2 linked regions of the Homo sapiens genome follow. Each later gene encodes a partner of the first gene's protein in a complex. Each region holds a gene or a part of one and is shown on either strand. Other genes may lie near its edges.

Evidence for each region.
Region 2: the proteins of PRPF40A (region 1) and SF1 are in contact, whole or in part, in an NMR structure (PDB 8PXX), measured with the Homo sapiens proteins. Residues at the interface, in NP_001352526.1 of Homo sapiens: His164, Ser166, Tyr172, Tyr174, Ser181, Thr182, Trp183, Tyr213, Tyr215, Ser222, Arg223, Trp224; in NP_004621.2 of Homo sapiens: Pro575, Pro576, Leu577, Pro578, Pro579, Gly580, Ala581, Pro582, Pro586, Pro587, Pro588, Pro589, Pro590.

Annotation. Positions count from the first base shown.
Region 1 is NC_000002.12:152,709,303-152,725,143, forward strand, and holds the start of PRPF40A (pre-mRNA-processing factor 40 homolog A), read right to left. Parts: upstream 8,138-15,841; coding exon 7,928-8,137; intron 6,825-7,927; coding exon 6,693-6,824; intron 5,328-6,692; exon of another isoform or gene 5,296-5,327; coding exon of another isoform or gene 5,248-5,295; intron 3,066-5,247; exon of another isoform or gene 3,002-3,065; intron 1-3,001. Other genes in the region: ARL6IP6 (ADP-ribosylation factor-like protein 6-interacting protein 6), read left to right, coding at 9,323-9,722, 11,231-11,284.
Region 2 is NC_000011.10:64,770,888-64,787,470, reverse strand, and holds the start of SF1 (splicing factor 1), read left to right. Parts: upstream 1-8,928; 5' UTR 8,929-9,078; coding exon 9,079-9,109; coding exon of another isoform or gene 9,110-9,484; intron 9,485-9,709; exon of another isoform or gene 9,710-9,972; intron 9,973-10,844; coding exon 10,845-10,973; intron 10,974-13,965; coding exon 13,966-14,041; intron 14,042-16,583. UniProt on the Homo sapiens protein: Necessary for the ATP-dependent first step of spliceosome assembly. Binds to the intron branch point sequence (BPS) 5'-UACUAAC-3' of the pre-mRNA. May act as transcription repressor.

The sequences.
Region 1 (15,841 bases):
GCCTTTTTACCTACTGGTTGAGCATCCCTAATTCAAAAATCTGAAACATTCCAATGAGCATTTATTTCGAGTGTCATGTTGGCACTCAAAGTTTTAGATTTTGGAGCATTTCTGGTTTCCAGATTACAGATACTCAACCTGTATAAAATATTCATAGCCACTAGATTTCCAAATGTACGGAAATACCATAACAACCAAATCAGCAGTTAGAAGACAAAAATGAGTTCAAAATGGCATCTCAGGAATGACCTCCTTGAGAGCAGGGCATACATCACCTGTACACTAGGTACCACACCCAAGATACTTAAATGTGTACTGAATAAAAGAAAAATAAAGGTAAGGAAAAAAATAAGAATGAGACTGATAATTTCTACTTGGAATGTCATCTATTAATTCCTACTTATAAACCTTCACAACATGGACCTATTTCTCTAGGTTAAAAACAGGTTGGGCAAGGCGGCTCATGCCTGTGATCCCAGCACTTTAGGAGGCCAAGGCAGGAGAATCACTTGCGCCTTGGAGTTCGAGACCAGCCTGGCCAACATGGCGATACCCTGACTCTACTAAAAATACAAAAATTACCTAGGCATGTGGCACGCACCTGTGATTCCAGCTACTTGGAGAACCTGGGAGGATGAGGTTGCAGTAAGTGGAGATTGCACCATTGCACTCCAGCCTGGGTGACAGACACTCTGTCTCAAAACAAACAAACAAACAAACCCCAAAATCCCTAGTACACTGCTATGGTGTAGCATATGTACCAAATCTTTTTTTTTTTTTTTGAGACAGTTTTGCTATTGTTGCCTAGGCTGGAGTGCAATAGCGCGATCTCAGCTCACTGAGACCTCCACCTCCCAGGTTCAAGCAATTCTCCTGCCTCAGCCTCCCAAGTAGCTGAGATGACAGGTGTGCGCCACCATGTCCCGCTAATTTTTGTATTTTTAGTAGAGATGGGGTTTCACCATGTTGGTTAGGCTGGTCTCAAACTTCTGACCTGAAGTGATCCATCCACCTCGGGCTCCCAAAGTGCTGAGATTACAGGCATGAGCCACCGTGCCTAGCCTCAAATCTTTACTATCTATTAATACTACTATTAGTCTTATCATGATATTCAACAAGCCTAATTTAAAAATCAAAGGTTAATCTATTGACTTGTTTCCTCTTTTGATCCACTATCTAATGAATACATTCATTGCACTACACAAGCTGTTTCGTTTATGCATATGTGTGTTAACACTAACTTATTTTGATGTTGCCTTTTTCTCCTAAAGAGCAAACTAAAAGAATAAAGGGCCCTAATTCAGCATTTCTCACAAAATGCTAATTTCATACAATGTGCTACACAAAGCAAAACAAATGCTTTATGTGGGAGATTTATGGGGGAGATGGTCAAATAAGACAGAAATACTAAGTAAAAATTGTAAAAGGCTTCTGCAAGACTTCTCATCACTTTAGTAAATATTATGCCTTGTGAATTTCAAAAGGGGAGCAGGGGATGCCGGTCATTCTTCTCAACTGATGTGGTCCTCCTTAGATCTTTCCACACTAAGTTTGTGAATAGATGAGCTCATATTTAAATGAACTGCTATCTAAAGATAATGAAAATAAACGTATTTGTAGTCTCACTATTAACATTTGTCAAAAATCTAACCACATTGAGTCAAGAATTTACAGACATTAGGTCTGAGTTAAGATATTTTTTAAAAGTACTTGCTTGAGTCATCCACATGTACCCAGAAGTTACCCAGATTCAAGAATTATGAGCAGATGACCTAAAAAACAAAAATTCTATCTCTTTTTTGTCACTGGCTAATGCCCAATTCAATGGCATGGATCCTGTAGCTACTCAAAAGGAAGGGTAATTCAGAAGGAACAGCAACAAATAAATTTGTCAAATCAGTCAGGTAAGTCTAAGGTACCAATACACTAAATTTCTCTGCAAGGCCTATATCCTACTTTGTTATTTTTTCCTCTACATTACCTCTACATTACTTATAATACCTTACACAATGTAAATGCTATAAAAGTTATTATACTTTATTTTTAAAAATTTGTATTTTTTTGTTGTTGCTTTTTTAAAGACTATTTTCCATCGCAGTTGCTTGAATCTCTGGATACAGAGGGTCGACTGCAAATGGAAATATTTTAGTTTTATTCTCCAAACAAAAATTATTTATTTCATCTTATTTATCTTCCATTTTTGTCAAATGAAAAAGTAAGAGTAAAGAGGCAGACACTAAAAACAAGAATAAGTAGTAACAACGTAAAGTCACAAGTAACCACTGGAAACAGTCACATTTAACACTGACTGACTTATGGGCTTATACTGCAGGAAAGAATACCTGTGTATTTGTTTCATTCATTCAACAAGTATTTTACTGAGCACCCATGATGTGCCAAGAACTGTGCTCAGCACCTATAGGCTTCTTAAAAAGTACAGAACATAGCCCCTGCCCTCTAAGAGCTTACAATCTATTACTTGTTGGAAAATTAAAGCAAATTAAGAAACCATAAAACAAGTCAATAACTAGGTGCCAAAATAAGTGAAACGGTAAGAGTTATGGGTAGATTACAAATATTTTCTTTAATAATCTGAAGGGGAGGTATATGTTGGCAAAAGTCATTTTTGAGAAACTTTTGGAGAAGGCAGGACTTGAAATAGTACAACATAGGTAAGCAAAGCAAACTTCATGGTGATACTGAGCTGGGGGCAGGAGGGTAAGAAGAACAGCCTAAGTTTGAAGTTGTGAACTAATATAATCACTCAAGACACCGTGAAAAGACCAGCCTAAGTTCAAATTAGGGAGTGTAAAGACATGCAGCCTTGAATCCTGCTTTGACATGTACTATGGGGAGGTTCTTTAAAGTTAAGCTGTGGAATTTAGATACTATGTTATAGGCACTGAAAGTACTGGAGATTCTTGGGCAAGGAGATAACACATTGAAATCTAAAATTTGTGGGGGCAGGGGGGCATCCTTGAAGCAAGAAAACCAACTCAACTCAAAAACTGTTGAATAACCTAGGCATGGGAGAGTGACGACTTGGGCTCATGTGGTAGCAGGAACTGAAATAAAATAAGATCTATTAGAGCCAGCCTTACTCAATATAGGAGCAAGAAAATCAAACTCATTTGTAAAAAGCAATTATTCATTTATCAGTTTACTGACCAAAGACCAAAAAAAAAAAGCACTGAATAAATAGAATTAGGGAGGCATTACTAAAGGAATTTTCTGTTCTTTCCATATCATCCCATAAAATCTGATATCTACTCTTATCAAATGATCTGAACTGAATCATAGGATGTTAGAGCTGAAAGGGACCTTAACTCAATTACTCTACTCTTCTCACTGATAGAGGAAAATAAAGACTCAAATAGGGAGGAAAAAAAAAGAGCCAGCTAGCATGACTCTGGGGCAAAGGCATAATCATCTGTGATAAAGATGGCAGGACCTGCATGTCCTTTGTGTAGAAAACACAAAAGACATGAAAACAGTATTTACTATGGACACTGAGGAAGAAGACAGCCTCACACATAATTTTATTGATAGAAATCTCTACAGAAAATCTTTATTTTTTTGAGATAGGGTCTCACTTTGTCACCCAGGATGGAGTGCAAGGCGTGATCTTGACTCACTGCAGCCTCGACCTCCCAGGTTCAAGCAATCCTTCTGCCTCAGCCCCCTAAGTAGCTGGGACGACAGACGCACACCACCACACCCAGCTTATTTTTAAATAGTTTTTGTAGAGATGGGGTTTCACCATGTTGCCCAGGCTGGTCTCCAACTCCTGAGCTCAAGCGATGCACCCGCCTCAGCCTCCCAATGGGAAATTTTTGAGTACTGCCATCCAGCAGGGAAAATTCTTTATCTTTCTTTACTAACATTTAACCAGTGATCCTCAAAGCATCTTAAATCACATATTATTTAAAGCTTAAACAACCTGTAAGGTCCCTTTCAGCTATAAGATCCTATAACTCTAAAAGTATGACTTTCCTATAAAGTTATATAGAATAAGAGGCAAATTTAATCTACAAGATAGAAAACTGAAATAAACCTGAAAGAATATTAAGCTCAATTTGATAATCATCAAATATTTATTACTACTAAGAGTCAGCCTAAATGCATGAGATGGCACTCTAGGTCATCTCATGAATTAAGAAAAAAAAAATTTGAACACACCACTTCTTTAAGCTAAATAGCTTGATGCATTTGAGAAATTATGAACCCTGGCTTCCGTACATCATTATGCTACCCAGTCTGCATATTATTTTACAAACAAGTTTTACAGTTTCATGTCATATTGGTAACATTCCAAAGACCACAATTATTTGGCAAGTAAGACTGCCACCAATTTTAGTCTTTAGCTAGTCCCAGCATGAGATGTTCATGCAAACCAGTCAACACATGAAGGTTTTTATAACCTTCAGTCCCAAAGTCTAAAGAATTTGTGAACTGACTTTTTTAAATTGCATGGCAGAACCCTCCCAACTGTCACTACTGTGAATGATACAGACAGACATCCTGCTTCTTCTCAATTATCTTCTGACCACTTATTCCTCCTGAGTACTTCCAAGAGTGGCAGAAGAAATAATGCAGGAAAAAGGATCAATTGTCCTATTTATTATCACCTTTAATTTTTAAAGCAATGTTTACAGAGTTTCAAATATGATTTCTGATTTGAGAATTCAAATTATCCATGCTCTCCCAGTCTGTTATAAAGCTAAAACAAGAATTTGTTTTACCAAGATTTGGGACCCATATTTGTTAGTGAAATATTAAGGGGATAAAAGGGAATTATATAATTCTGACAAAAACAGCGGAGATTCTTTTGGGACTTTCAGGGCATAACTCCTACTAAAACATTTATTTATTATACTAACAGGAGCCTTCAGAGGGAGAAGAATTCTAAACATCTAAATAATTAGGTCTACTTAAAGGCACGTGGCATATATTAGCCTAGGAAAAAGTAGAAGAAAACCACACCAAAAAAATCAGTTATTTGAATGGATGTGTACCGAGTAGCAAGTAAACTTACTAGAAAGATGGTCACTGATACAGCTAAAGAGAAAGGGCCATAAAGCAAACTGTGACCAGCTTATGTCAATGAGATACATGAAAGTACTTTTAAAAAATAAAATCTGCATTTTTTTTTTTAACTAGAACTATGACTAGCTGGTATCTTGGTTTTGGTAGTGCAATAGCACCATTACAGCAAGGGTAAGCAGGTCAATCCCTTGCAAAACTTACCTTGATTGGCCCAATGGAAACAGAAGGCCCCAGAAAAGAGAGAAGCATCTGGCAGTAGCAAATTGTTTTATTTTATCTTTCTGTGGAAAGAAACTAATTTTAAATAAGAACCAGAGCATTTAAAGAATAAATATTTTTAAAGCTCATTATCTAGTTAGAGCAGCTCTACCAAGAAAACAAGAAGAGCTCCTTGCTCCTTAGAGATGGAAAGAAACAGAAGAGGAATCAAAGTTGTTTCTCCATCACCTAGAGAGTTTTAAAATTTGTGTTATTCTAGAGTAACAGAATAAAAGGCTCTTTTATTTAAAGAACTCCTGCAAGCAGAATCTTTTGGGGCTGGTGCCTTTGAATAAAGGTTTTGTTTTGTTTTTTAACAAAATTAAGGGCAATATTCCAAATTAAAAAAAAAAAGAGGAAAATCACTGGACATTAAGCCCTTCTACTCTTAAGGTTAAGTAAAAAGAGACAGACACATAGCAAGCTCCTTTTCCCACTGCAATTTCACCAATAACTTTAACCATGAAAGCTTAAACAATTATCAAACAGTACTAATTAGCAAAAGATCACATGAAATTGGCTTCCAAAATATTTTGTTAGCCTAAATTTTTGATGATTTATGGAAATACTCAAATGGAAATAACCCAGCCACCTAAAGATCTATTATAGAACTTAACATGAAGCACAAAATTACTCATGGTAACTGAACCTGTTACCTTTCTTGGATGCTTCTCTAGAAACTCAGTTCTACCGAAATCACTGAATCAGCATTAAAACCTTTTGATCCAAATCACTCCTACAAAATGTCCATTTACAATTTATGCTAGAGATGGAAGGGACAGCTCATAAGCAGGAGTGTAGAAGCAACAAGCATTAAAAAAAAATAGTATAAGTGGAAAATGAACTACCTATTGGCACTGTCCTATGAAGAATCAGAATTATAGAGCACAAACTCCCCACCCTCCCTCACCCTCCTCCAACACACAAAGAGGAAGATATTTCAGGAATAAAATTCGCTCTAAACCAAAACAATAGCTATTTTCAGATTCTATTTATTTACATGGTCTACCAAAATCAGTTATGTTGCTGTATCAGATAATATTTACTTAGACCATCAACTTCAATTGGCATTCTTGAAAAAATAATCATTAAAAATAAAAGCCTGGATCCACACTTTACTTTTAAATAATAAAGAAAAAAATTCTTAGTTTTGAGGTCATCAGTAAATTTCTCAGAAGACTTTTTCATTATTTAAATTTCTCAGAAGACTTTTCCATTATTCAAATTTCCGTTACAGTCATGATTTAACATTTGGCTTATTTGAAATTATTCGGGCATAAACTAATCATTAAACAGCTATAACTACTGACCTAGATTCTGAAATCTTGATAGAATACCTGAGGCAAAAACAAATAAATAAATGCAAAATAAAACAAAAACAGTCTTACTTGTCCCATTGGTGGCCCTCCCATAGGGGGCATCATCTGCGGCATCATTCCATGAGGTACAGGAGGCATATTCGCTCTCTGACCCATAGGGTGCATTCCCATTGGGGCATAATGCATGCCAGGGTGCCCCATCTGAAAAACAGTGAACATTTTTAAATGAGCAAATAATACTAAATGCTTCTCAAAAATCTCATTTCAACAGATCAGTTATCTGAAGCGACATAATATTAAGCTTATGTGTAATAACATCATTGGATTAGTCTATACCTTGTTTCAAACAAAACGCATTCTGCTAGTATTTAAAACGAGCTTGCAAATTCCGTAAAAAAATGGGAAAAGTTAAGATGAATCCTGGACCGCTGGATCATAGGTTTTCTCTCTCTTTTTTTTAAGCACTGACTTAACCAGCTACTAATTGGCTTGCTAAGCTTGGAGGATACACATTGAATACTAATTTTAAAACTGTTATGGTGAAAACAACAACTCTCCTATTTCATGCAGATATAAAAGATAGCCAGCTATTGTTATTTTATAACACTACTGATTTTAAACTTTAAAATGCTCTATCCAATTAACTCAGGTGAGAGTCGGTCTTACAAAACACAAACAGTATGGCTACCCAGGCACAATTCACTCCTAACAAACTTATTTCCTAACATAACCTTTAAGACAGGTAAAATTCCTTCTGCCAAAAATACATTTTCAAAGACTGAGGTTCTGTCACTCACGGACACTAAATGCAAACAACTAATTCATCCTTTTTAACGCAGTTTAAAAAGACAACTACTTTCTTTACCGATGAGTCCATTGTTCTATGTTTTAAATTAAAACCACCTAATTATCTCCTGCCAATTGTCCCAACAGTTCCCCCTGCAGACCACCCCGACGACTAATGAAAACAAATTTTGGCAGCCGCTGTTAAAGTCTTACAGTATCAAGCCCCTGCCTCCCCCTCCCAGCTAAAATCGGGCCTAAAGCTCCAAGACGCTCACCCCGCCCAAGAGCCAGCACCTTCACCACGCATCTGTCTAGGCCAAGCCCACGGGGAACTTCCAGGGTCTCACATCCTTCTCTTTGTGCATTTCCACCCTCCACTTCTCTCCCTCAGAACATATCCCACCATCTCGAGTTCTTCCTTCGTCCACTCTTATCTTCTTCTCCTTTCGGAGAAAGCTTCCTGTTTCTCACTCCGTTTTTCATTGTGCCGCCTTCCCCCTGCCCCACTGATCCCTTACCGAGGGCCGTCTCCTCAGGAAGCCGTCAGCAGAGACCCAAGAGCCGGAGCAGAGGCTTGAGCCGGACAATCTCCGCTCCCCGTCCCCAGGACCCTGCGAGGGAGGATGGCTCTCCATTTCACTCACCATGAGGCCTCCACGCTCAGCTCCCGTCCCCGGCCTCATCGTCGGGCTCAGACTGCTCCGCCGGCGGCCACTGCCGCTACACATACCAACAAGAAGCGATCTGAGTGGCTGGCGCCCACTGGGGCTAAAGGTTAAAGGCTGCCCTGCGCTACGGGGCGGGATCAGCGGGGCCAACAGGCTGACGGGCTTCCCCGCTGTCCAATCAGAATGCGCCGCCGACACGCAGCTCTGCGGCGATTCGCCCCCAGCCTCAGCCTCACTCGGCGTCGCCTGCATGGGGGGGGGGGAGGAGGAGGACGGAGGAAGTTTCTGCGCCGAGTCCTCCGTCGGGAAAACTCTACCAACTTCCCCAGGGGAAGGGAAGACAACAGTGTCCCAGCTTCCCGAGCTTAGACCGCCTCACCCCGTAGGGGGTGGGGCAGTGGGGGTCTGCCACCTTCACCCTCCCCGCCCGAGTTACGTACGCCCCACAAACCTGAGGCCGCCAGGGGTAGGGTGGAGGGGGCGGGGGTAAGCAGCCTGTAGTGTTAGCGGTGGCTGGGACCGAATGCGCGCGCGCGGTGCTCGAGGCGGAGGGGAGGAGGCGGGGAAGGCGAAAGGAGGGGTTCGGAGGAGAGGGTTCGATCTCCGTACGCACCAGGTGGAGAGCGCGCGCCTGGGGAAGGAGGCGTGTCGAGTAGCGGGAGGGAAGTTGTAGTACGGGTGGGGAGAACCACACTAAAGGGAGATGGGGGTGAGCAGTTAAGGAACCGCGAGAGCGCCAGGTAGAGAGGTGCCCTTAATGGGGGAACCTGGAGAAGAGTGTGAGCGTAGTGGGGAAGAAGGGAGAAGACAAATAGGTTCGGGAATGTGTCTCCGAGGGCGCGAGCGGGCGCTAGGACCCGGCGTCGAAAAGATGAGGCTTTGGGGCTGTCGGGGCGCGCGCTCCCGTTGGTGACGCGGGGGTGGCGGAGGTCTCCGGCCGGGACGAAGCCCCGCAGGGAGTGGATACTCGACAGCCTTCGGCCTCCGCTCGCTTCTCCCTGCGCGCTTTCCTGCTCCCCTTTCCGGCTACAGCCCTGGGGTCGAGCTCTGGTCGAAGCGCATTCCGCCTCTCCTTTGGCCCTGCGGCTTCCTTTGCAACCCGCCGCCCACCCTTGCTCTCCGTGGTTTACCCCTGGGCTCTGAGGCCTGGTGGTAGCGGCCACTGCCGCGGATTGGCTGTTGCGGACCCGGGGCGGGGCAGGTGGGAGAGGCTCGTTCTCCGCGGGTTTCGTTGTGTTTCGCGCCATGTCGTTTGCTGAGAGCGGGTGGCGGTCGGCTCTGCGGCGCCGCGGTCCCGGCACCCCGGGCCCTGTGGCTCGGCCATCGTATTCCTCCTTTACTCAGGGGGACAGCTGGGGTGAAGGCGAAGTCGACGAGGAGGAGGGATGCGACCAAGTGGCCCGCGACCTGCGGGCGGAGTTCTCGGCTGGGGCGTGGTCAGAGCCCAGAAAGCGCTCGGTGCTCCCGCCGGACGGGAACGGGTCGCCCGTTCTGCCCGATAAGCGCAATGGTATCTTTCCCGCGGCCGCGGGCAGCAGAGCCCAGCCTCGGCGGTGGCCGGTCCAGGTCCTCTCTATTCTCTGCTCGCTGCTCTTCGCCATTCTTCTCGCCTTCCTCCTCGCCATCGCCTACTTGATCGTTAAAGGTATTGAAGCCGACGCCTTGAAAGTCTGTCCAGAGTAAAGTTGAGCCAGGGTGTGGCTCTCGTCTCCACCCATCTCCCTTTCCCTCGCGCTAAGCCCTCAGGCTGGCAGCTGCTTTCACCCAGAGTCCTCATTTGCATCTTACTTTGCTCTCCCGCCCTTTGCCTTTTCTAAGTGGAGCGTCCTGATCCATGATCAGGAGACGTATTTTTAAAAAGGATCGTTTGATTAAATGGGTACTCTTGAAGAAATATCTTCAAGTCCTTGAACACTGGGGATGAAATATTGTGAAGATTAAACAAAATGCGAAACACCCACCATTAAAAGGAGACAGTGAAAAGTGCATATAATTAAAATAGGCCATGTTCAATGGCCTTCATCCACAAATAAAGATGTGCTGTCCACCAATTCCTCTACACAGAATCTTGAGGGACAAAGATTTTCATCGCATAGTCCAAATTTCTTCTTTTATAGGTAAAATAATTAGCCTCTCAGTTTTTAAGTTTGTATCCAGGTGTAGTGCACGGAGTTCTGTTGCAGAAAGTATAGTCCACTCGTCCTCTAATAATTTTGTTTTTCTGTCTGAAGTTGAAATATTGGCCGGTTGAAGTTTATTGCAAGGCATACGGTTGTATAATTTAGTTGGCTAGTGTATATTATAGTGGAAAGAAGCAGAGTTAAGTTTAAATTTCCATTCTCACTAGTTTGTGACCTTTGCCAAGTTACTGAAAAAAAAAAAAAAAAAAAAAAAACAAAAGAACTTTGTTGTATGAAAAGCACCCAAAACATTGTCACTGAAGTGTTATTTTTGTACTTCATTAAATATAATTAAATCTATTTAACTCCAGTTTTTATTTGTCCTCATTGCTTCCCAGCGTTTAGTGGGCTACAGATGGCATGGCATCTAAAACCTTACAATGCTTGATTTTCATACAGAAGACACTTTGGCCAGTTGATGTGGGTTTTACCTCTTCATAAAATGGTAAACTGAATGTGCATAAAATGCAAGCTGTCAGTCTTAAATGATTGGCTGCCAATGTTTCATTTATCATTCCCCTCCCCACTTTTTTGCCCTTTTTTGCAATTCTGATAGTTTTGTCTCCTAGGTGGTTTATTTCTGTTTTGCTCGGAGACATTGCCTTTGTATCATAAAGTCACAAAACCATGATAAGTGGAATTCCATTGCAGAAGACATTGAACTGTGCTTATTTGGAAGAATAGAGAAAGGAACTGAACTCCACCTAGTATGCCCTTTAGTGTTTACCACTACCTTAGGGAATAAACAGTACTCTCATCCTATGTACGGTATATAGCTGTTGGCTCCCTTAGTGGTCAACACATTAATTTGCTTGCTGAAGGTCACATAGCTGGTAAATTGAATCAGAATTTGAACCCAGTTCTTTGTGACTCCAGAGCACTTTCCACAGCTCCACAATGCCTTCACAGCCCTTGAGTTACTTTTCAAATTATAGTATTGCTTTCCTACCTAAGTCCCTCTTTGTATTTGCAGAGTTGCATGCTGAGAATTTGAAAAATGAAGATGATGTAGACACTGGACTATTAGGTATGGACTTAATTGCCGCTTGCTTTGGTTTTGAGCTCACGTTTGTGTTTCTAGATCATGTTTGAACTAACTCTGGGATAAAATACTTAATGTATTTCTATGTGCAGTCATTCAGTCTTGTTTTTAATTTGCATATGTTGGTGATAAATGTTATTAGATTTCCTTTATATGTGTGGAGTATGTGTATGCATATATGGTATGTTTGCTATAATTTTTTAATGGGGCCAGGTGCAGTGGCTCACATCTGTAATCCCAACACTTTGGGAAGCTGAGGCAGTAGAATCACTTGAGCCCAGGAGTTCCAGACCAGTCTGGGCAACATAGTGAGACCCTGTCTCTACAAAAAATAAACAGAATTAGCCAGGCATGGTTTCACTCATGTTTGTAGTCCCAGCTACTTGGGAGGCTGATGTGGGAGGATCACTTAAGCTGGGAAGTTCAAGGCTGCAGTGAACCGTGATAGTTACACTGCACTCCAGCCTGGGCGACAGAGTGAGACCCTGTCTGAAACAATAATAATTTTTTTAATGGGTACTGGTATGTGTATGTACCACACACACTAGTAATACATTTTAAACACAACTGCATGTGACTCAGGTCCAGAGAAATATTTAACATTTTCTAATTACCTTCTGGAAGAGGCTTCCCACAGCTCTTCTCAGGAATTTAAAAACAAAAGAACTTCCTCACTATCCTAGCAAAGGTAAATAATGTCTTATGTAGGCTTCAGGAGGAATTTAAGTTCAAATATCTTTATGTGCAGCTTTTTTTTTTTTTAAAGCATTGACCATCCTTGCACAGGTAAATGACTAGGAGAGTCAGACCTCAGTTTCTGCAGTGTCTGTAGAATGCTGTAGTTCACAGGTTTCCAGTGAAAAAGGTTATTCTATATTTCTCTCCACCAAAATGATTCTGAAGAGTTGAAAACTTTACCTGTCCAGCATATTTTACTCCTATTTGCTTTGATCACTCTAAATTGGGGAGGGGAGATCAAACTTAATCACTCTACATTCGATCACATGAATCAAGTCATTTGATGTGATCACTTTAAATTAAATCATTTGATTTGATCACTGTAGATAGGTGGTTGAGACACTATGACACATGTCCTCCCCTCTCCCATTCTTTCCTAAACTCTCTAATCTACCACTTTATGGCTAATCACCCTTATGGTGACACTAAGTATAGTGTACCTTATTTCAGCAGAAGGGGAAACATGAACCCTTTATCTTCAAATTGCAAAGAAGTTGGTTTCTTAGATATTGCATGGAAACTTTTGTCTGTTCTTGTCAACATCTTGCATGAGAAAACATACTTTTTAGTTACTCATTTTATCAGTGTATGTTTTTACATTGTTTTATCTCTAGAAATAAGCCAAGATTATTAGGCTTCTCAGAGCTTTTATTGATCTGTCACCTCTTGATGCAGTGGAAACAGAATCTTATGAATTAGGCATGAATTCTAAACCTTTTGCTGTTTAAAAGTTGTCCTGATTTCTCATTTAGGAGTAGAATGACGGGCAGTTGTTATCTGAAGGAATGGCTTGCTCAATATCAAAAGGAATGTGATAGGTCTTTTGACATGGTCCTGCTTCCTTTTCCACTTAGGGTTAAATAATCCCATGTTGCTTTTAGGTATGCATGATAGATACTTAATATTTTTACAGCAAATAGGAAAATCATTAAGATTTTGCTAATGGCATGAATTTATTGTCAAGAGTCAGGAATGAGCAGAAAGTGTTGTATCTTTATGGTGAAAAAAACCCAACAGCTATGCCAAAACAAAGCTCATTATTTTGAACCAATGGTCAGATGAGCTCCAGTGGTCAGATGGAGAATAAAAATAGTTAATATCATTTAATGGGCTAATTCAATCAGTTTCCTGGGGGTTAATTTTAAAGAATAGTTATAGCAGATGTATGTATTATAACATATGGATAGAGAATAGTTGTCTCTACCAGAAGAGGATTCTTAAAAATCTGTTTCAGTGAAACAGGGCCAAGATGATTAAGCTCTTAATAAGATTGAGGTGATCGGCCACGCGCGGTGGCTCACACGTATAATCCCAACACTTTGGGAGGCCGAGGCGGGTGGATCACTTGAGGTCAGGAGTTCGAGACCAGCCTGAACAACATGGTGAAACCCCGCCTTTACTAAAAATACAAAAACAAAATTAGCTGGGCATGGTGGCACAGGCCTGTAATCCCACCTACTCGGGAGGCTGAGGCAGGAGAATCACTTGAACCGGGGAGGTGGAGGTTGCAGTGAGCCAAGATTGCGCCACTGCATTCCATCCTCAGCAACAGAGCAAGACTCCAACTCAAAACAAAACAAAAGATTGAGGTAATTGTGGCAACACCTGCCTTTTTTTCTAAGCTGCAATTCTCTACTGTTTTCAAGAAAAATACAAGTTAGCCTATTTACAGAATGTTTTGAATTGACTCCTGTCCTCTGGTTAAAACTCCTCTTGAGATAATTGATAGCTGAAAAGGTAGGATGGTTCTCTCAAACTTGACTTCCATCTAAATCAACGCTGAGTTGATTAACTTAGATATCAAGAAAAATTGCCTCATTAGTTTACCCCTGAGGAGATGCCTATGAAGTTACATCCTTTTTACAATTAATAAGACAGTTTTCACATGAAGAAACAATTTGAAATATTTAATAAGAAAATGTGTTGAAGTCATCCATTACGTTTGGGAAAAGTACCATGCAGCCTTTTATCAGATGATAACGATTTTATTATATTTCACTATTTATTTTGCCCTGTTTATTAGGAACCTCGTAGCCAAATGTAATAATGTTTGATTGTTTTGTATATTACTCTTTATTTCTTGGCATACTTATTATTGCCCACACATGCTATTATCTTAATATTTCCGTGACTCATATTTAAAATTTACTGCAAATTTCCTCATTCTTTGTTTGAAAGTAGGTTGGTTTTTAGAAAAAGCAACGTGAGCACAGTAACTGCTCTACCATGAAAGAGTTCTCTTTCTTTTTCTAGACAGACTGACAAAAATTTTGTACACTGCAGAATTTAATTGCAATTTAATCCTAGTCCAAGATTGGCATGGCAGTCAGTAAGAACAGATTATAGCAGCAATTCTCATTTTGGTATGGGTAACAATCACTTGGGGACTTGCTTTTTTAAAAGCACCTGTAGATTTTGTTTTGGCCATCATGATTTCGTGATACAGAACATTAGAAGTGTTAAAAAAAGTCCAAGAGAAAGGATGTGTGGGAGGTGGCCCATTCTCTTAAAAAGACACAAGTTGAGTAAAACTCAGTTTCATCCTTACAATGAAAATTGATTGAAACTCTGAACTTGAACTTTTTAGCCAGTGTGTGGACTTTATAATTTGAACCTATACTCTATTAAGAAAGTGTTACAGTGCTATCTGTGGCTGGGTGGGGTAGCTCTAATATTTCATCTAAAAAGTCACAAATATCCTATTCTATAGCACAATTTTTGTAAAATTGTCTTACCTATTTGTATTATTCAAGAAATGATGACTAAGGCCAAAAAAAAAAAAAAAAAAGAGAGAAAGCCAAAAAGGACTGGAAGGATATAATCAAAATGTTAGTTTATCTGGGTTTCCGAATTGATTGGTTGTATTTATTATTTTTATTTTCTACAATGTATAAGTGTAACTTGCAATAAGAAAAACTTTAAGGGAAAGCACAAATTTAAGTTTAGAGAATAATGTTTCAGTAATTAACAATAACACCATTTATTGCACTTTTACAATATGCCAAAAGCCATTAATTTGTGTGTTATTTCCTCTAGTATTCTCAACTACACTGTATCCATCAATGTTATTTTCTTCTAAACCAAAACTCAAGAAAGTATGTATTATAATTTTTATACCATAGATAGTCTAGGTAGTATAGCAAGGCAGAAAAAGAATGGGTTATCAGCAAGAATTAGCCATGTGCAGCTAAATTATTAGTCATGAAATTATTACAGGACTCTTCTTAACACATAAAAGCAGTAATAAGAACCAGACATTAGGACCCCTAAATCTCAATAAATTGAGTTGACATTGTGTGGTACTCTGTAGTCCAACTTTGGTGGTTGGGAGGGACGTTTCTTAGGCTAATGAAGTCAAAAGTTAGCTGGCATCAGAATCACCTGAAAGATAAATTTTGCTGCTCTTCACATGGTGCAGAATATCTGACTCAGTAGTGTGAGATGGAGCCCAAGAATTTTCATTTTTGACAAGTTTTGAGTTGATGCTCTGCATGCTGCTAGTTAGGGGGCTATATATACTTTGAACACCACTGGCCTAGTAGTTCCCAAACCTGACATAAAAAAAAAAGCAAAAAAACGAAGACCCTGGAGATTTTCTTTTTTTGCTTTTACGGAATCTTAGACCCTATAATTATCTACTGAATCGAAGTAACTTAATTGGCTGTATGTGTCAGTGTACACTGTACAATCAGGGCTCATTGGACCATTTTTCATTTCTGAATTATTTCGAGCAGTTCTGTTTGTAAGGATTGAAATTTCATGACTTATTCTTTCTTAGGGATCTTCAAAAGAATAAAGAAAACT
Region 2 (16,583 bases), on another chromosome or scaffold:
TCTCAGTTACTTATGAACCCTTCTAGAAGTATTTTGCGTATTTAAGCAATTTGGTATATTTTATTCTTGGCGATTTTTTATATACGTATTAACATATTCCACATACTGTACTGACCTTGCCCTTTAAAAATATATCCTGGGGGGCCAGGTGTGGTGGCTCACACCTGTAATCCAAGCACTTTGGGAGGCCGAGGCGGGCGAATCACGAGGTCAGGGGTTCGAGACCAGCCTGGCCAACATGGTGAAACCCCGTCTCTACTAAAAATACAAAAAATTAGCTGGGCATGGTGGCGAGTGCCTGTAATCCCAGCTACTCGGGAGGCTGAGGCAGGAGAATCGCTTGAACCTGGGAGGCGGAGGTTGCAGTGAGCCTAGAACATGCCACTGCACTCCAGCCTGGGCGACAGTGCAAGACTCCGTCTCAAAAAAAAAAAAAAGAGAAAAAAATATATATATATCCTGGAGAATATGAATGTATTAAATTATCACATGCACCCTGAAAAGATATGTATATATCCTGGAGAGTTTTGCGTTAAAGATCTCCCTTTAAAAAAAAATTTTTTTTTTTTTACAGCTAGTGGTATTCCATTGTGTATGTTTCCCATAACAAATGTTAATGACCTGCAGTGAGATCCCTATTGGTGGAAATTTGAGTTGTTTTTACTACTTTTATATTACAAACAATGCTGCAATAAATATTATTAGGCTAGTGCCCCTCTGTACATATTCAAGCACTTCTAGAAGATAAGTTCCTGGAAGCAGCATTAATGAGTTAGCGGTGGCTACATATGCCGTGGTGATAGCTGCTGTCCAGTTGCCCCTCCATGGGCAGAAACCTGTGGGAGGGTCAGACCAGACTCTTTAAGTCATTCTTGAGGACAAGTAGAAGGGACGTGGGCCCCCCCAGGATGTTCAGGTAACTGGCCCATACCCGGAGTCATCCTGGTGAAAGTCAAGGGGAGCACCATGATGTGTGCTTCGGGACGGCGGAGGATCTGCCGTGTTCCCTGTGGCATGTCCAGCACCTGCTCACTACCAGTGCTCAGGAGACCCTCACGAGTAAGGGAATGGACAAGATGTGGTGAAGAGGAGTCCCTGCAATCTGCCCTTGGACTGGGTGAGCCACCCCAGCTCGCTGAGCTTTACTTTCCTTAGGTTTACCATATCCAAAGCCAACTGCAGGGCTGTCAGGAGGATCAGAAATACTGTAACAGACATAATGCAATAACATAGATGACTCTTAGAGGTAAATTAAAACAGCACTTTATGCACAGTACGATAGCATATTATAAAGCTCAAAAACAAAATGAAACCATCTATTGTTTAGCAATACATGCCCAAGATACAACCCTATTAAAAAATCATGGGAAGGAAAAGCACAAAATCTGAGATGGTCGTCCCTGAGAGGAGTGTGGGATGGGATAAGGAAGGAGCCCAGGAATTTTTAAAGGTATTGGTAATATCTTAGCTCTCAGGTTTGGTGGTAGGTTCATGGGTATTTAAGTTATAACTCAGTTCCTAACTCACATAAGGTGCCACACATCCTTTTGTATGTATCAAATATTATGTCATAAAATTTTAGTTTGGGCATGGTGGTTCATGTCTGTAATCCCAGCACTTTGGGAAACTGAGGCAGGCAGATCACTTGAACCCAGGAGTTCTAGACCAGCCTGGGCAACATGACAAAACCCTGTCTCTACAAAAGATACACAAATTAGCTGGACATGGTGGCACTCGCCTGCAGTCCCAGCTACTCTGGAGGCTAAGGTGGGAGGATTGCTTGAGCCTAGGAGTTCAAGGCTGCAGTGAGCTATGAACTTGCCACTGCACTCCAGCCTGGGTGACAGAGTGAGAACCTGTCTCAAAAAGAAAAAAAAAAAAAGGAAAAAAATTTTTAAAAAATATTTAAAAGTAATCACCGAAAAAATAGAACTCGCTTGAAAGACAAGACCAAAAACGAAGAGGACGTTTCCCTAGATGGTGAAAACAAGTGGGGCGGAATCACTGCAGCGTCCTGCACAGAACTCTGGAATTGCCACTTTGCAGTTGCTGCCTTCTAGTGTGTATTGTTGAAAGACAGTTTTATTGAGGCATAATTGGCATACAATAAGCTGCATATAAAAATGTGTACGTGATGACTTTTGACATACGTGTACACCCGTGAAGCTATTTCCACAATCAAGATAATCACCATCCCCTTCACTCTGGAAAGTTTCCCATGCCCTTGGTAAGCCCACCCTCCTGCTTCTTGCCTCCCATCCCCAAGTAACAACTGTGCTGCTTTCTGTCACTACAGGTTAATCTGCACTTTCTAGAATGTATGTAAATAGAATCACACAGTATGTACTTGTGTTTTGTCTGGCTTCTTGCTTAGCTGAGCATAAGGATTTGCGAGTCATCCCTGTTGCATGCATTAATATTTTATTCCTTTTTATTGCCAAGTAGTATTCCATTGTTTGGATGCACCAGTTTGGTTAGCTGTTCACCTGTTGATGGACATTTGGACCATGTTCCGTTGTGAACTATTACAAATAAAGCTGCTATAAACATTCATGTACCTGTCTTTGTTGGATATATTCTATCATTTCTTGTGGGTAAATAGTTTGGAGTGGAAGGGCTGACTCACAGTTAAGTGTCGTTTAATTTTTTTTTTTTTTTTTGAGACGGAGTCTCACTCTGTCACCTAGGCTGGAGTGCAGTGGCCTGATCTTGGCTCACTACAACCTCCGCCTTCCTGGGTTCAAGTGATTTTCCTGCCTCAGCCGCCTGAGTAGCTGGGATTACAGGCATGCCTGGCTAATTTTTGTATTTTGAGTAGAGATGGGGTTTTGCCATGTTGGGCAGACTGGTCTTGAACTCCTGACCTCAGGTGATCTGCCTGCCTCGGCCTCCCAAAGTGCTGGGATTACAGGTGTGAGCCACTGCGCCCGGCCGCATCTTTTTCTGTTTTTCTTTTTCTTTTGAGATTGGAGTCTTGCTCTGTTGCCCTGACTGGAGTGCAGTGATGCGATCTCGGCTCACTGCAACCTCTGCCTCACGGGTTCAGGTGATTCTCCTGCCTCAGCCTCCTGAGTAGCTAGGACTTCAGGTGTGCACCAGTACACCCGGCTAATTTTTGTCTTTTTAGTAGAGATGGGGTTTCTCCATGTTGGACAGGCTGGTTTTGAACTCCTGGTCTCAAGTGATCTGCCTGCCTTGGCCTCCAAAAGTGTTGCGATTACAGGTGTGAAATACTGTGCCCAGCCTTTTTTTGTTTTTTGAGATGGGTTCTCATTCTGTCACCCAGGCTGGAGTGCAGTGGTGTCACCTCCACTCACTGCCACCCCTGCCTCTGGGGCTCAAGCCATCCTCCCACCTCAGTCCTCATGAGTAGCTGAGACTACAGGCTCACACTACCATACCCAACTAATTTTTTATTTTTTGTAGAGACAGAGGTCTACCCATGTTGCCCAGGCTGGTCTTGAATTCCTGGCCTTGAGTGATCCCACTTCAGCCTTCTGAGTAGTTGGGATTATAGATGTGAGCCACCTCAATGTATTTTTTATTTTTTATTTTTTGAGACGGAGTCTCGCTCTGTTGCCCAGGCTGGAGTACAGTGGCGTGATCTCAGCTCACTGCAAGCTCTGCCTCCCGGGTTCACGCCATTCTCCTGCCTCAGCCTCCTGAGTAGCTGGGACTACAGGCACCTGCCACCACACTCAGCTATTTTTTTTTTTGTATTTTTAGTAGAGATGGGGTTTCACCGTGTTAGCCAGGATGGTCTCAATCTCCTGACCTCATGATCTGCCTGCCTCGGCCTCCCAAAGTGCTGGGATTACAGGTGTGAGCCACCGCACCCAGCCTTTTTTTTTTTTTTTTTTTTTTTTTTTTGAGACAGGGTCTCCCTCTGTCACTCAGGCTTCAGTGCAGTGGTGTGATCACAGCTTATTGCAGCCTCAAACTCTTTGGGGTCAAACAATCCTCCTGCCTCAGCCTCCCAAGTAGCTGGAACTACAGGCACACATCACGCTCAGCTGATTATTATTATTTTTGTTTCTGTAGAGACATTCTCCCTATGTTGCCCAGGCTGGTTTCGAACTCCTGGCCTCAAGCAATCCTCCTGCCTTGCCTTCCCAAAGTGCTGAGATTACAAGTGTGAGCCACTGCACCCAGCCCTTGGTGCATTTCTCAATGCCTATAGTTATATAATGTTGCAAAAATGGAATCATGTAATACATTTGTTAAGCGTATGAAGCATTTTTTTTTTAACTTTGGATTTTTAGGCTGGGTTTGGTGGCTCACGCCTGTAATCCCAGCACTTTGGGAGGCTGAGGCGGGCGAATCACTTGAGATCAGGAGTTTGAGACCAGCCTGGCCAACATGGTGAAACCCCGTCTCTACTAAAAATACAAAAATTAGCCAAGCATGGTGGCGCATGCCTGTAATCCGAGCTACTCTGGAGGCTGAGTCACGAGAATCGCTTGAACCCAGGAGGAGGAGGTTGCAGTGAGCCAAGATCATGCCACTGCACTCTGGTCTGGGTGACAGAGCAAGACTCCATCTCATAAGAAAAAAAAAAAAAAAAGTTGGATGTTTAAGATGTGTTGGGCAACTTCCAGCCGCCCATTTCACTCTGCAATAGAGCATGTGCTGTGTATCCTTCTGTAGCCTTTGTTATGCTCAGATAATCATATGCAAACATGCACACATCTGTATGGGGTTTGTGTTACAAAAACAAAGCCATGTCATATGTATTTCTTTGTTAACACAGAACAGTAGTTACTTTAGGTTGGTTGGTATGAATTAACAGCTTTTCAAAGCTGCCTAATATTCTAGGTTATGGGTTTTCCAATTCAGTCGTTCATATATTGATGGAAATTCACTCTGTTTGCCCATTTTTACCACTACAAACAATGCTGCAGTAAATGCAGAAGACTTTGAAAACATTATATAATCACATGGCTTGTTTGGGGGCAGATTCCCAGGAGTGGGATATTGGATCGAAAGGGTTTATGTTTTCTTTCTTTTGAGACAGAGTCTCACTCTGTCGCCCAATCACAGCTCACTTCTGCCTTTACCTCCTGGGCTCAAGGGATCCTCCCACCTCAGCTTCACAAGTAGCTGTGAGTACAGGTGCATATTTTTTTATTTTTTGAAAGGGGGAACAATTTTAATAGACAACAGAATGCTTTCTAAAAGATTAACGATAGTAGGTGTTAGCACATTTATGTTCTGCTATTTTCATTTATTTTGAGATTCCTCATTATCACCTTAATTTGTATTTCCCTTATAGGCAGTGTCTAAATACTGGTAAATAAATTAGCTAGTCTCAGTCGCACAAACTCAGCACAGTCTAAGGTGGTACTGCTATAACAGAATCCCTGAGACTGGGTAATTTATTTATTTGAGACAGGGTCTTGCTCTGTTGCTCAGGCTGGATTGCAGTGGCGTGATCATAGCTCATTGCAGCCTTGATCTCCTGGGCTCAAGTAATCCTCCTGCTTCAGCCTCTTGTGTAGCTGGGACTATAGACATGGACCACCATGACCAGCATTTTTTTTTTATTTTTTATTTTTTTAGTAGATGTTGCCCAGGCTGGTCACAAACTTCTGAGCTCAAGAGATCCTCCCACCTCAGACTCTCAAAGTGCTGGGATTACAGGCATTAGCCACCACACCCAGTCTGGGTAATTTATAAAGAATAGAGATTTCTGGCTGGGCACGGTGGCTCACGCCTATAATCCCAGCAGTTTGGGAGGCCAAGGTGGGTGGATCACCTGAGGTAAGGAGTTCGAGACCAGCCTGGCCAACATGGTGAAACCCTGTCTCTATTAAAAATACAAAAAATTAGCCAGGCATAGTGGCGGCACCTGTAATCCCAACTACTTGGGAGGCTGAGGCAGGAGATTCATGTTGGCCAGGCTGGTCTCGAACTCCTGACCTCAGGTGATCCACCCACCTCGGCCTCCCAAAGTGTTGGAGCCACCGCGCCTGGATGGAGATTAAGTTTCTAACACATGAGCTTTGGGGGACACATTCAAACCTGTCCACCTAAAGTAATCAAAAGGGTCAGAATCTAATTTCAATAGTTTATTCAAGCACAAAACATGAGGGTGGACTACCTGGAAACACCGACTCCAAATGAATGGAGTCAGTGTTTCGAAGTAGAGAAGTTAAGGTTTCATTTACACACACAAAGGCAGAGGAGTTTTAGGATTACATTCTTCATATATGGTCAGTGCGTACTTACAGTAATTTGGTTATAGGCCGAGTGCAGTGGTCCACTCCTGTAATCCCAGCACTTTGGGAGGCCGAGGCGGGCAGATCACCTGAGGTCAGGAGTTCAAGACCAGCCTGGCCAACATGGTGAAATTCCATCTTTACAAAAATGTAACAATTAGCTGGGCATGATGGCAGGTGGCTGTAATCCCGGCTACTCAGGAGGCTGAGGTGGGAGAATCGCTTGAATCTGGGAGGCAGAGGGTGCAGTGAGCCGAGATTGTGCCATTGCACTCCAGCCTGGGCGACAGAGCCAGACTCTGTCTCAAATTGAAATAATAATAATAAATAATTTGGTTGTAAGCAGTGTTTCTTTTTGGGAGGCATACATTTAACATTTTTTACAGAGGGTGTAATAGTCATGGGTTTGCTGTCATCTGGTCTAAGTAAAGCAGGACAACAAAAGGGAAGTTATCTATAAGAAGGGTCATTAAGAAGGCAGCAGGTTTTTGTCCCATGTTTAATTCTCTCCAATAATTGTACAGAACAAGAAAAACAAGCAGGTCTAATTTATTATCTCAGAAAAAATTATAACCATACATGGCTGAGATCACAGTCACCTCTCTCTCCAGGTTTCAAGTGTTGTGGGGGTTCCAACATCTTTTCTATTTATTTTAAAAAACCACAGCAGAGGGGTTGTGCACCCTTTCATATTTCTTGGCTATTTGGATTTGTTCTTCTGAGACATGTCCATTCCTATTTTTTGCTCATTTTCTATTGTTTTTGCCTTTTTTCTAATTAGTTTTTAAGATGTATTTGTATATTACAGGTATTGGCTCTTTATCATGTATGGCAAATATTTTTTCCTCATCTATCATTGTCTCTTGACTTTTATCAGTGTTAATTTTCGGGGTAATCAAGTATATCTTTTTACAGTTTGAGGTTCCTGTCTTTGCAGTCTCTCAACCCCTAGAATACCCTTATAGTCTCCTAAATTATATTCTAAATGTTTTGTTGTTTAAATTTAAGATTCTACGCCATTTATCAACGAAATCATCTTTTCCTGATTGAAATAAAATACTACATTTGTGGTATTTCCGGATTCTGTTGCACTAATGTGTCTTTCCTACCAACAATATCATATTGTTTTATTATTGTGGTTTTTTGTTTTTGAGACGGAGTCTCATGCTGTTGCCCAGGCTGGAGTACAGTGGTGCGATCTCAGCTCACTACACCTCCGCCTCCTGGGTTCAAGCAATTCTCCTGCCTCAGCCTCCTGAGAAGCTGGGATTATAGGCGTCTGCCACCACGCTCGGCTAATTTTTGTACTTTTAGTAGAGACGGGGGTTTCACCGTGTTGGTCAGGTTGGTCTCGAACTCCTGACCTCAGGTGATCCCCCCGCCTTGGCCTCCCAGTGCCTTGGCACTGGCCTATTGTGTTTTATATACTATGTTTGTCATCTGGAAAGGCAAGCTCCTGCTCCGTCTTGTAAAGTTTTCCCAGTACTGTAGTAGTTATTTTTATTTTTATTTTTGACAGTCTCGCTCTGTCACCCAGGCTGAAGTGCAGTGGCCCCATCTCGGCTCACTGCAACCTCCGCCTCCCGGGTTCAAGCGATTCTCTTGCCTCATCCTCCTGGGAAGCTGGGATTGCAGGAGTGCACCACTACACCCAACTAATTTTTGTATTTTTCGTAGAGACGGGGTTTCGCCATGTTGGTCAGGCTGGTCTCGACCTTCTGACCTTGTGATTCGCCCGCCTCGGCCTGTCAAAGTGCTGGGATTACAGGCGTGAGCCACCGCGCCCGGCCGTAGTTATTGTTTTATACGATTTTAAGATCATTTAATTAAATCCTCTGAACTCCGTGGAGATTCCAATAGAAGTGTGTATTTGTAATTTTTGAACTGACAACCTTCTGTTACCTTTCATCTAATATGTTGTTGCATCAGTTCAAATACTGTTTTAAATCCTTCGATAAGTCGTCTCTATTCGTAGCTTTTTGGGTCACTTTTTTTTTTTTTTTTTTTTTCCAAAAAAACAGGAAGTCTTTTTACCTGCAGCGTCAACTGAGCCGGTTTTCCGGCGCGCGCCAGCCCCTCCCCTGCTCCCGCCCCAAGGTTCTGCGTTACCATGGGAACAAAGGTTGACGTCACTTAGGGCTTCCTTGCTGGACCCAAGGGTCGATGGTGAAGGGAGACGGGTGGAGAGGCGGTTTTGCTCCATCTACGCATGCGCACTTCCTGCTCCAGGACTCCCCCGCCGTAAATCTCGTTCCGGCTGGGCCTTTTCCGCCGCGACTCTCGCTTAATCCCGGAGAAACTGCCCCCTGGGGGAGGGGAGTAGAAAAAGGCTGGAACCAGCGACAGCCAATCCCGCGACACTACAACGCAGGCGAGATTGATTGAGTCCACCACCGCAGCCAATGAGAGAGCTCGCCGTCGCTCCGTCATAGAGTTCGCCCCACCCCATCCCCTCCTTTCTGGACTCGGAGCTCAGTTCACGCAGTAACAAATGAAGTGCGCGCTGCGACACCTCCCAGCCCACCGAACTCCGCCGCCATTTCCTCGCTTGGCCTAACGGTTCGGCCAATCCCAGCGCGCATCAAGAAGGACTGAGGCTCCGCCAATCGGAGGCCGCCGATTTCGACCCTTCGCCTCGGCCCGGCCCAATCCAGGCCCCGGCCCCGCCGCCCCCGGCCCGCCCCCGCGGTGCCCTCTCTCCTCCCTCTTTGTGCGTCTCGCGCCGCCGCCGCCCGCCGCGTGAGAGGACGGGCTCCGCGCGCTCCGGCAGCGCATTCGGGTCCCCTCCCCCCGGGAGGCTTGCGAAGGAGAAGCCGCCGCAGAGGAAAAGCAGGTGCCGGTGCCTGTCCCCGGGGGCGCCATGGCGACCGGAGCGAACGCCACGCCGTTGGGTAAGCTGGGCCCCCCCGGGCTGCCCCCGCTCCCCGGGCCCAAAGGAGGCTTCGAGCCGGGCCCTCCGCCTGCACCCGGGCCTGGGGCGGGGCTGCTGGCTCCCGGGCCGCCGCCGCCCCCGCCCGTGGGCTCGATGGGGGCCCTGACCGCGGCCTTCCCCTTCGCGGCGCTGCCTCCGCCGCCTCCGCCGCCGCCCCCTCCGCCTCCCCAGCAGCCGCCGCCGCCTCCACCGCCACCGTCCCCCGGCGCCTCGTACCCGCCGCCGCAGCCGCCCCCTCCGCCGCCGCTCTACCAGCGCGTGTCGCCGCCGCAGCCGCCGCCACCCCAGCCGCCGCGTAAGGACCAGCAGCCGGGCCCGGCCGGCGGCGGAGGAGGTGAGTCGGGCCGAGAGAGCGCGAGAGGCGTCGCGCGGACGGGCCCGGCCGCCTGAGGGGCGCGCGGCGGCGGCGACGGCGGCTGCACGCGGCAGGGGCGCGCGTGCGCGCACGGGGAGGCCCGGGCGGAGGCGCCCCTGGGCGCGCGCGGCCTGGTTCTAGGGCCTCGAGTGCGCACGCGCGCTGTGGGGGGAGGGCTGGGCGGGCGGGAGGCGCTCTGTGCGCAGACGCAGTGAGGTGGCCGGGCTGTGCGGCGCAACTGTATAGACTGGGGGCCCACTATTGCTGTCCAGTCCGCTGGTGTCGGGAACAGGGGTGGCGGGTGTTCAGCGCTGGACGGGGTGCTAGCTGTGAATGCCAGCAGGGCGTGAAAGCCTCACCTGATGACGTGCAGCGACTCCCTTCTGGTCTTGAGGAACCAGAATGGGAACCGTACCAAGGATAGCTCCTCTGCTTCTACAGCAAGGCAGGGTTTTCATCCGGGAGAGGTTGGCATGCTTCAGATGATGGTTGGGTCTGATCTTTCTTGGTCTCTTTTGGGGAGAGAATTTTAGTTTGTTTTTTTTTTTAAATCTGTTCAGTATGTTTAGATCTCAGTCTGATCGGCTGCCCTGTCGCTTTGTTTTAAAAAGCTTTTCCCTCTGATCCTGTACCCCTTGGGAAATAGAAGGACTCTTTTGTGGCAAATGTAGGGAGTTTCTGCCTATGTACGGGGAAAGGAGAACTTGGCTGCTATTGTATAGGTTGTTGAATTTTTGATAGATCCTTTTAAGAGTTCAGACCCTCAGTGTCCAACTGGCCAGGAAAACTGAATGCTGATCTTGGCTAAACTTATGAAGACAAAGGTGATCTTGTTGAAGAATTGGGCTTTTCCCACTTGGTAGGGTGTAACTAGGTTTAGTTGTGGTCCGGCCTCTCGTACAAAAGTGACTGGTGAGGGGAGTGGAGGTGGGTGGAGCCCCCAGTCCCATCAGGACTGCTTTACAAATCTATGATTCTTCAGTGTATTTTTGTCTCCCCTGGGGATTTCAGAGCACTCATGGTTGATGTAGTATCTATCTAACACTCTCTGCAGCCATATGCATTAAGATTACCACGTTTATATATCTGACAGTTTTTCTAGACAAAAGAAGGTGAAATGTTAACTTGCCTGACCAAGGACCACATACCCTTGTAGTGGCCATAAGCTTTAAATCTCTGATCTCTGAGGTTTGTTTTCTGTTTTTTTAATGTTTAAGTTTTAGGTTAAGCTCTCAGCTTCACAGTCTGCTGAGTTTCTGTGTAGTACCTTAAATACCCTTAGCTGTCTGTTGATAACTACTTGTATTTACATCGGATGGATTTTGTCTCTGCCTTTTAGACTTCCCAAGTAAGAAGCGGAAGAGGAGCCGCTGGAACCAAGACACAATGGAACAGAAGACAGTGATTCCAGGAATGCCTACAGTTATTCCCCCTGGACTTACTCGAGAACAAGAAAGAGCTTATATAGGTAAATATACGTTCTGCATCCAAATGCACTTTGAGATTGTTACGATTTATTCTGAGCAAGATCTGCATTTTTTGAAAGTTTGAGATTGTAGTTATCTTTTTTGAGATGAGATACTTTCACGACTTTGGTATCATCTGTCAGTTTTTGCCCAGTGAGTTCTGCATTTGCAGCTCCTTGTTTTGGTCTGTTCGTAACTGCAGTGTTCTCCATGAGTATCAGGAAGGTAGGGTTTCACTTAGGAGTAAGAACAGTCCCCAGTCCAGCAGCCACCCTTTTCAGCTGCTGTTCATTGCCAGTTGATGAGGTGAGTGTCATCTGCCTCTCTGGACAGGCCCCAGTGGAGAACACCGCAGGTACTGTAAACCAAGTACTTTTCACAGCGTGGCCTTTCACCATAATTTTATATTTCTCCCCCTAAAATGTGGTCTTTTACTTTTTATAGGTACTTTCTGAAAAAAAAAAAATGACAAAAAGTGGTTCTGAAAGTGTGTTTACAATTTACCCCTTTTTATTTTCTTGAATTTAAGAGTTTAACCTTCCCTTCAACATCTTTTCTGGTTTGGTCTATGGAGAGCTGTCTTAAAATGAAGGCTCTTGTATTTACTTTTAAAGAACTCTGCTGGGAAAGGGATATTGCATGGATATGGAATGAAGTGCTAGGATAAAAAGGTTTTATTTGCTGGGAGGTTTTGAGAATTAATGACTATCCACAGTGGAATTGAAATTAACCTCAAAATTGCTTTTTTGGAAAAAAAAGTTTTTAATGCAAGTTTTATCTTTATATACCTGTGCAGCTGTCTCAAAAAAGTTCACTTTATAAACATTTCCTACTAACCAAATAAACATCCCCTTTGGAGGAAATTCGGGCAAAGACCTCCTAAACCTACGAGGCTGTGGCCTTCACAACCAAAAAGCTTCAAGGCCAGCATGTTACTACTTTTGAGGGTCTTAATTTCCTGTTTTTTAGACTGCTGAGAATTTTGAGGCGTTGGAATTGTCTGTCTCCTTTCACAGTACTACTAATACTTGTTCTTTCCCCTACTGTTCCTGTCTACTCCCACCCATTCCATTGTGTCTCATATTAGACTAGTCTGGGTCTTTACATCCTTGTGAAATGCCCCTAGTGGAGTGATATCCCAAGAACACAAGCATACTTAGAAGATGGGAAGAGCACAAATTCTTTATATCTCCATTTCTGTTTTTGTGGAGGGCTAGTTAGTTCACTGGGCCCTAAGGACTATTTATAGCTATAATCAAAATAGAATCAAAGGAGAGGTGTAGTTCTCCACAGAAGAGAATGACCCTTTTTATTTAGATCAGGCCCCACATCTCCATAGTCAGCTAGGAAGACTCACCTTCTCCCCTCAGTGAAGGTGACTTTCACCTCGAGTTGTTGAGCTTAATACTCAACTGCAAAGTCAGAACTTTTTAGGCATAAAGGAGCTTGGGGAACCATGTGTCTTACTACTTTTCTGTCTCCCACGGTACATACTGCTTTGTCCAGGATGCCCTCAATATCTTTTTTTTTTTTTTTTTGAGAGACTGAGTCTTGCTGTGTCGCCAGGCTGGAGTGTAGTGGTGCGATCTCGGCTCACTGCAACCTGCGTCTCCCGGGTTCAAGTGATTCTCCCACCTCAGCCTCCCAAGTAGCTGGGACTACAGGCGCACGCCACCATGCCCAGCTAATTTTTTTTGTAGTTTTAGTAGAGACGGGGTTTCACCATGTTGGCCAGGATGGTCTCGATCTCTTGTCCTCATGATCTGCCTGCCTTGGCCTCCCAAAGTACTGGGATTACAGGTGTGAGCCACTGTGCCCGGCCAGTATTTTCTTTCGATAATAATGGGTTTTCATTTCTTCAGGGTTTTAGTGTGTGGGTGTGGTATAGCCCTGTGGATGTATTTAAAGTTAGAAGGAATCTTTGGTTAGACACGCATTAATCCTATCTTGGAGCCAGCTCAGTTTTAACCCAACCTAGTAACATTTGCCCTTATTGGAGATGCCTGCTGAAAATTCTCAGATGCTGCGAAGGTAAGGAACAGGTGGTTATTCCGCATGTTGAAGAAAGCTGCTCTGGCTCTGCAGTTCCCATTATCTTGGAAAATCAGCTGTGTAACATTTCCCTGGCGTCACTGGCAACTTTTGTGAAACCCTCATCTCTCTTTTTCATGCACAGCCTCATTGGTCAAGGCCCGAGGGCCAAGTACATTGTCCTTGAACACACATTCCATTCTTCTACACGCCTGCTCCCCATATGAACAGTGAGCCTGAAAACAAATTCTTAGCACTTTATGGTTACTGGTTTATTAAGATATGTGGTTTGTCATTTAATATTTGAATAAATATTTCATATAATTGAATAAGAGCTGCAGGTATTGGGAGACCCTTACTAGTACAGGTCTGGTTGTACAGAAAGAGTATGTACAAATTTCTATAAGGTGTTGAATTTTGTTATTAAATGTCTTATTTAAGGAATTTTAAATGTATTAATGAAAATGATCTTTGCTCAATTGGTATTTTTCCTTGTCCCATGTTAATTGGGTCTCATTTTGGGCTATGTTTAACATTTAATGAAGAAAAAACTCAATTCTTGCCCTCAAGTAATTTGATGGGAGTCGGGTATTGGTGACGTAACATGGTTTATGGTTCTGGGTACCAATGGTAAGCAAGCCTTGGTGGGGAGGAAGAGGTGAAACACCTCCTAATAATTGCTTGGATGTTAGCCTTAGTGAACAGTCTTTATTGCTAACCCCTCTTCCAACAAACTGTTTGCTTCCTTAAGTGATAACCATTTTGAAGTGAAAAAAACCTATAGATGTAAAAGGACTCCTGCCGATAGGTGGTTGGGGGTTTTTGCTTCAATGTGTTCACTGATCAGTCGTCCCTTTCAAAGTCTCCGAGTTCTTCATGCTTGTTGTTGAGATTTGAGATGTTTATTGGTAACATTGTCTTTTTTCCATCCTTTTTTTTCTTTCCTAACCTGGTTTCTTCCAGTGCAACTGCAGATAGAAGACCTGACTCGTAAACTGCGCACAGGAGACCTGGGCATCCCCCCTAACCCTGAGGACAGGTTGGGAAACAGTTTTAACCAGCTGACAGTAACGCTTTTACCTTTTTCTCAATACGTTTTACTGGTGGCAACATATTGTGTCAGTTCAATAAAATCATAGTATGACGACTGTACCCTGACCACTTTGGGGATTAAGGTTTAATTAGAAATATGTATGGTCAGTCAACAGTTAGAAAATTGGAATAAAACTTAAAAATGTTGGGAGAATAAAAAGTTACAGGAAAATGGACAACTGGTTTCCAATTGGTAAGCATGTAGATCTTAACCTGATTTACCCACCCTTAGGGGACAGTGAGGTGGCCCGTTAACCTGCCTTTTCAGTACCTGCTTTGGCCAAAAGCCCAGGGCATAGAGTTTTTCTCACAGGTACACAGTGCAGGGACTAAAAATATTTTTGAGCATCACTGAACTTGAGCAAGCCAGGAGCTCTGGTCAGCTCATTGCTGCAGTCTTCCTGCTCATGGTTTTGAGATGGTTTCAAAATCAGATGAGATTTCTAACCAACTTCTTTCACTGCCAGTTAACTTTCAGCCTTGGCCATTGCCTTGGGGGTGTTGGGAGGGGCCAGAATATTCTCACCTATTTTGGGAAGGCATGCAACCAACCCTAAATTACTTTTTTTTTTTCCTTAAAGGGAGCGTGGGCCTCAAACAGCTGTGGTCATGTCATTTCAGTTTGCAGTTTCTCTCACCTCAGAAAAATAAATTGTGTGGGGGAGATGAACTTTTTTAAACTGGAATTTTATTAGCTGATTGAACAGCTAAAATTGGTCATTTAATTAGAAGGGCAGTAAGTCTCTCCCTCTCACTGAATTTTCTCTTAGTACATACAGAATAGTTGAAAAGACTTTGCTTTAAAAAGTAGTGTTTTTGGTTTTTGTTACCCAGTTAATAGCTTATTAAATCAGGAAGATGATGTAATGGCTTTAGAAGTCACTCACTCATGCATCTTTCTTCCGCCCTTTGCCAGGAAACATTAACTTCCTTGTTTCTCCATATTGACTCTTTAATTTGACTTACTACATTTGCTATATTTTACCTATAGATAGATTTTGGTTGTAGGGTTGTGTTGTGTTTCGTTTCTTTTTGAAGATTTTTTTTTTTTTTAAATTTACATTGTAGGTCATAGACCACAACTGTTTAGTGCCTTTTTGGCCTTTTTCCCTTTAATAATATGTCTACAGGTCACCAGTCAATTCCTCCAAAGGTTGAATTTTTAACAAACCTTCTTTGCTTCCTGGATAACTGGGATTAGAATTTAGTTGATCTAGCCGATGCCTGTTGGAGGTGAAGAAGTCGGGCCAGTCTAACCTCTAGAATACTAGCTTTTGCCTTTCACTTCTGCAATTTGGGAGGAGGTTAAACTGTTGTGAGGCCTTCACATGGCCAATTGGGTGCTGGTAAGACTTGTTTTTGTAACTAGCTAAGAATGCTTAATTCTAGACAGCTGTGGGGTGGGAATTAGAAATGTCAAGCATGTTAGAAATAAAACCAGAGCAGGGTTTTTCCTCCCTTCTATTCAGTTTTGAAAGAGGCCCTAATGCCTGATTGGTTTTGCTTTTGAGCCCAGGTTGGAGGGAAATGCATGGGTTTTCTTAATTAAGATAATTTCTTAAAAAGGTGTTATATCACTTAAGCCACTTTATTGTTATTTTGATGCTGCTTAACTTGCACAGTAAAAACATGTTTAAAACTTTTCTTGTAGACTTAAATGTATAAGATGGTAGTCTAATGAGCTGGGGTATGTTTGCTTTTGTTCACTCTTAATGGATTGTGCTAACAGTTTATACAAATGCTAGAAACGGAGGTGTCATTTAGCCGTCATTAGCCATGAACAAACCTGACCTTTTATTCCATCGTGTGTGTAACGTGGTGTGACATGGTTCCCTTTAGGCTGAAGACAGTGGGAGCAGCCGAGTTCAGTCCTTGCTCTCCAACTAGGCAAGGTTCTCTCAACTAAACCAAGGGTATAGGAGTCTTGATTACTTTCAGTATGTTTTTTTAATAACCTGATCCACATGGTCTCTTCCCTTCTTGCAGCTGCTACTAAATTTTCATTCAGAATATCAAGCTATGGTCCTTTTTGTAATCTTAACTCAAAATTCTAGGAGTGTAACCTCTCTTTTTTATTACCGCAAAATCCAGCTGTGGTAAACTGACCATTTTATCATTACATTTTTTTACTTGTAGCAACAGCATTTTACTCCTTAAAAAAATGAGAGAGAGAAAATCTGCTTTCTGGACTTGTAAACTCTGGTGGAGAATCATAGGTTTTCCCCTTGCTGTTTGCAGGTTCAGACCCTAGACAAGTATGACCAAATCTGCATTTGCAGCCTCTCGCAGAAGCTGCTTTAGCACTTTAACGTTTTTCTCTACCCAGACTCCCCAACCTCGAACAGCCAGAAAACAGGTTGTCTCCTGGGCCTTGGACACAGCCAGCCAGGCCATTGAAGGAAAAGCAAAGACGAAGCGAACCATCTCTCTCCATTGTGGGGGCCAAGTAGCTGCAGTAGCCTTCAGTCCCAGTTGCATTGGGTTAAAGA